Linked DNA regions of Homo sapiens: region 2 is linked to region 1. A link means that fine-mapping ties the variant in region 1 to the expression of a gene that starts in the linked region. Tissue or cell type: lung. Region 1 holds a variant in brackets; the other region holds the start of a gene. All regions are shown on one strand. Distances are between the middles of the regions.

The links. PIP is the estimated chance that this variant, and not a neighbour inherited with it, causes the effect.
Region 2: it holds the start of CIMAP1D, and the variant in region 1 is fine-mapped to the expression of CIMAP1D in lung (GTEx, PIP above 0.99).

The regions. Positions count from the first base shown.
Region 1 is chr19:388,904-391,581 of GRCh38, reverse strand. No RefSeq gene overlaps it. Among named protein-coding and RNA genes, the nearest start is that of SPMAP2, 14 kb to the right of the region's middle. RefSeq lists enhancers at 1,570-2,134, 2,135-2,678. The variant G/C (reference allele first, on the strand shown) is at 1,241.
Region 2 is chr19:473,663-476,340 of GRCh38, reverse strand. It overlaps CIMAP1D (CIMAP1 family member D), which reads left to right and starts at 1,358. Exons shown (of 4, transcript NM_182577.3): 1 at 1,358-1,720. The coding sequence starts at 1,594.

The DNA of each region.
Region 1 (2,678 bases):
GCTGATTAAATCAAAGTCTGAGCTCATCTAGACCTGCAGAGTTGGGGTCTCTGTAGGAGGTAAGGTGGGGGGCTGGCCCAAGACTCTATGCTTTGAATATTGTTTTCACATCTTTTAGTTTTGATATCATTTTGACCTTACAGGAAAGTGGCAAGATTACTTGTCATACAGCAGGAACTCCCCCTGACTCTACCCAGAGTCACCAGCGGGCTGGATTTTCCCCATTTGCTGTGTCATCTTCGGTGTCTGTACCTCTATCTGTATCTACAGCCACCTGTTATCTACATATGGTACAATATTCATATTTATACACATTTTCAGAACCATTGAAGACTATGCTGGAGGTGCAATGCCCACTTCCTCCTAAACATATCAGCGTATCTTTTCTAAAAACCAGGATTCTCTTTTATAACCCTGGGGCTGTTGTCAACATCGGGAAATTCCACATCCACACAACGCTCAGATCTAATCCGCTGCCTGCATTTAAATCTCACCGGCTGCTGTGGTGATGTCCCACTGTGGGTGGGGGGGCCTTGCTACCCCAGCAGGTACCATGGCAACAGATGCTGCTGGCCGGGCCTGCAGTGGAGCAGCGTGGGCTGGGAGCCAGCCAGGGCGGGGGCCGGGGCGGGGGCCGGGGGGCCAGGCCTGGAGGTGCCGCTGGCCCTGGGGTCGGGTTAATGGCACCCTGAGGACCACAGAGTGAAGCTCCTGGGCCTCTCAGACCACTTGGCCTTGGCTAAGGGTTGAGAAGGGTTCTGAGGCCTTGCCAGGGCTCAGAGGGAAACAGTGTGGCCCTCAGCATTCGGCTGCTGATGTCTGCCTCAGGCTGGCCATGGCGTGGGCGCAGTGTGCTGTGTGTCTGTGTCCAGCCCTCGTGTGCACAGATGAGGAACGGCCTCCTTCTGAGGCTCTTGGCAAGCGCGGAGGAAGCAGAGCCCGGTTGCCCAGTCCGCGGGCTTGACCGCACCCCAATGCTGGGGAGAAGGGGCTGCCACATCAGAGCTGCTCACAGCCGGGCCCTGGGGAGCCACCGATGTCCCTGCACCTCCGCGTTCCCATCTGTGACAGGGAGCAATGGTGGCTGCACCTTCAGGGCTGCTCGAGGACTCGCCTCAGTGTTCCCATCTGTGACAGGGAGCAATGGTGGCTGTCTTGGTGTTCCCATCTGTGACAGGGAGCAATGGTGGCTGTGCCTTCAGGGCTGCTCGAGGACTGAGTGGGAGGATGTTGCTACACG[G/C]AGTTTTGTTGATGGCATCTGTAGTTGTACAGTGACCCTACTCTCAGGCTACATGGGCTGCATCTGTTACAGCCATGGGTCTGCATTGTTCAGAATCATGTCTTGGAGGCCACGCTCTACCCACCTCTGTCTCCCATTACCGTGGGGTCTTGGCCTGCGCTGCTCTAGAACCCCAACCCCAGCTCAGGCCCCAGGAGAGAAATGGATGGGTCCCCACAAGCCAGACCGCGGCCTCCCAGAACCAGCTCATGGGGGATACGGGAGCGAGCAGAGACGTGAGGGCAGGAGCCACGGGCAGGGCACGTGCAAGAGGCCAGTGGTGGACTCAGAGGACAGGCAGACACACGGAGGACAGAGAAAGAGGGAGGGGAGAGAGAGAGAGACAGAGAGACGGAGAGGGGCATTGCCCTGTGTCTGGAGGGGAGGGGCTTGTCAAGGGCTGGGTTGGGGGTTGGGGCTGCAGAGGGACTGGGGGACTCGTCCCAGCCTCTCCTCCAAGGGCATCTTGGGCTGTTCCCCAGAAGCCGACTCTTTGGGCTGAAAATAGACCTCACAGCTCAGACACTGTCTCTGCAGCCACCTGGTGGCCCCTCACGCGTCCCCAGCTTCCCCGGAATGCCGAGTGTGTTGGTGAATTTTTTGTGTGAACTCGACTGGGCCGCAGGATCCCCAGAAGTTTGGTCAAACATCATTCTGGGCAGGTCTGTGAGGATGTTTTTGGATGAGGTGAACATCTGCAAACCACCCGCTCTTAGGAACACACCCAAACTCTGCTGTCGTGTTGAGGGTTTCATTACCATGAGTAAATCTGGGATGAATATTCATGTGTGAACGTCACTGACTACGTGCTCTGTGACATGTTTGGACACATGTGTCCCTCCAAATCTCATGCGGAAATGTGACGCCCAGAGTTGGTGTGAGGCCTGGTGGGAGGTGCTGGCTCACGGGGTAGATCCCGCCTGCAGGGCTTAGCCCATGCCCTTGGTGACACGTGAGTTGAGTTCTTGCTCACCTGAGAGCTGTTTACGATTGCGGCACCTTCCCCCTTGCTAACTCTCGCTCACCTGAGAGCTGTTTAGGAGTGCGGCACCATCCCCCGTCCTGCCTGTTGCTCACCTGAGAGCCATTTAGGAGTGCGGCACCGTCCCCCGTCCTGCCTGTTGCTCACCTGAGAGCCATTTAGGAGTGCGGCACCTTCCCTCTTGCTCCCTCTCACCCGTGACACACCAGCTCCCTCTTCACCTTCCTTGATGGGTAAACCTCCCCGGCCTCCCCAGAAGCGGCCCAGAGGCCGGTGTCACATTTCCTGTACGGCCCGCAGAACCGTGAGCAAATGAACCCTCTTCGTTATGAACGACCCAGCCTCAGGGACCTCTTCATAGCGACACACTCCACAAGACAGATGACTGGGGGTGAAGATCCTGGGCCCAAGGACGGA
Region 2 (2,678 bases), 85 kb before region 1:
TGGCTCACACCTGTAATCCTGGCACTTTGGGAGGCTGAGGCGGTTGGATCACAAGGTCAAGAGATTGAGGCCATCCTGGCCAACGTGGTGAAACCCCGTCTCTACTAAAAATACAAAAAAATTAGCTGGACATGGTGGAGTGTGCCTGTAATTAGCTACTAAAAATACAAAAAAATTAGCTAGACGTGGTGGTGCATGCCTGTAATCCCAGCTACTCGAGAGGCTGAGGCAGGAGAATTTCTTGAACCCTGGAGGCGGAGGTTCCAGTGAGCCGAGATCGCGCCACTGCATTCCAGCCTGGGCGGGGGAGCAAGACTCTGTCTCAAAAAAAAAAAAAAAAAAAAAAAAAAAAAATTAGCCAGGCGTGGTGAAACCCCATCTCTACTAAAAAATATAAAAATTAGTCAGGCGTGGTGGCGGGTGCCTGTAATCTCAGCTACTCAGGAGGCTGAGGCAGGATAATCGCATAAACCCGGGAGGCAGAGGTTGCAGTGAGCCGAGATCGCACCAGCGCACTCCAGGCTGGGTGACAGAGTGAGACTCTGTCTCAAAAAAAAAAAAAAATTACACTGCAAAAGGCTCCAAAAAATACAGAAACAAACAAGGAAGAGACAGGAACGTGCATCTCATCTGGCAGTTTTCTGAGCCTCTTCTTGGAGCCTCACGCAGTGGTCGCCTTGAATGTATCAAAATCCATTGTGGTTTAAATCTCGGAGGCATCTGGGAGGCAGTGAGGACGGCTCTCACCTCCCCGCTGTCCTCGCCGCTGCCCCAGGGCCTCTGCACGGCTGCCTCCTCACCTGCTTTGGGACTGTTCAGTTTTACCTTCTCCGTGGGGCTCACCCACACCCACACTGCTACCCTGGGCCCCAAACCTGTCTGCGTTTTCCCTCACGTTCAGTGCCTCCTCATACACCAGACTGTGTTCACTTATCACATTTACTGACGACTTTCTCTCTCCCATCCTGAGAACATCTCCTTCTTTTCCGTCTGTTCGTGTCCAGTTCTCACCACCCCCAACAGAGGCTGGTACACAGTAGGTGCCCAGTACATGCTTTGGCAGGAATGAGTGACAGGATGAGGCAGTGAATGCTTCTTGGCTCAGAGCTGAAACTCCCAGAGTTGTGTACTTGCTGTATGACCTTGGGCTGTGCCTCAGTTTCCCCAGGTGTAGAAACGGGGCCACGCCACCCACGACCCCGCCAGGCCCTCCTGCTGCAAGGCTGTGGGTGTCATGTTTGCAGGTCTAGTTCCCTGGGGCCGGCCCTGGCCCCAGCTGCCCAGCTCTGCCGGCTCCCGGGAGACGCACTCTGCTGACACCGGACTCTTTCCTGGACCATCCAGCCGCCTGGCCGACACTCGATCCCGGCCCCACTTCCAGGCCAGTGTCCGGCCGACCAGCCTGCCTTGGGCCAGGGCCCCACGACTCCCTGCTGCGGGACAAGAGGCCGTCTGTGCGGCTGTGGTCGTGGGAGGGTGTGGTGAGGCCGTGAAGGTGGGGACGGTGCCTGGGCCTGTGGCCGCCAGAGCTGCTGCGGCTCAGAAGGTAGCACCAGGCCCCGTGGGTGCTGTGGGGGCCATCGCCTGCCCACCATGGGGACCCTCAGCTGCGACTCCACCCCACGGCTGGCCACAGCCCCCCTTGGCCGGCGAGTGACGGAGGGCCAGATTCCGGAGACCGGCCTGAGGAAGTCCTGTGGGACGGCCACCCTGGAGAACGGTGCGTGCCAGCCGTGGGGGATGGGTGGGACCTTTTCCTGCTCCACTCCCCATACTTCTGGGGCTTCTGGAATGTTCTGGGAGCCCAGCAGGAGGCAGGAGTTTCAGGCAAGTCCTTGCCCTTCCCCAGACCTCAGTTTTCCTTCCGGCAGGATGGGTGTGGACACGGGGTTGCCGTGAGCCCCGAGTATGTGTCTGTCCAACGGAAGCTGCGTGCTTTGCCAGCCGGGTCCCCTTCCAGGGGCTGTGGGTACAGCAGTGGGCAAAGCCACAGCGATCATGCGGGAGACGCGGGGAGGAGGGAATATTTCCAGCGTGGCCCTCAGGGACGGGCGCCCTAGACAACGTGGGGCAGGGCGAGGGGCGCGTGTGCGGAGGCGGCTCTGCTGGGAGCCACATCAGCTGCTGGCCTCGGTGAGGGCCCAGGACGGGCCGCAGTTTCCTCACCCACAATTAGCGGCTGGAGTCAGGCCCCAAGCCAGGTCCTCGGGCTGGTTCTGTGGTCTCTCCTGATCCCTGTGGCATCGAGATTCTGCAGAAGCCACAACACATGGCGTCTGTGACCGTGTATCTCTGGGAGGCTCAGGCCTCAGTCTCCCCATCTGTGATCGTGTATCTCTGCCTGGGCCTCAGTTTCCCCATCTGTGACCGTGTATCTCTGCCTGGGCCTCAGTTTCCCCATCTGTGACCGTGTATCTCTGCCTGGGCCTCAGTTTCCCCATCTGTGACCGTGTATCTCTGCCTGGGCCTCAGTCTCCCCATCTGTGACCGTGTATCTCTGCCTGGCCCTCAGTTTCCCCATCTGTGACCGTGTATCTCTGGGAGGCTCAGGCCTCAGTCTCCCCATCTGTGATCGTGTATCTCTGCCTGGGCCTCAGTCTCCCCATCTGTGATCGTGTATCTCTGCCTGGGCCTCAGTTTCCCCATCTGTGACCATGTATCTCTGCCTGGGCCTCAGT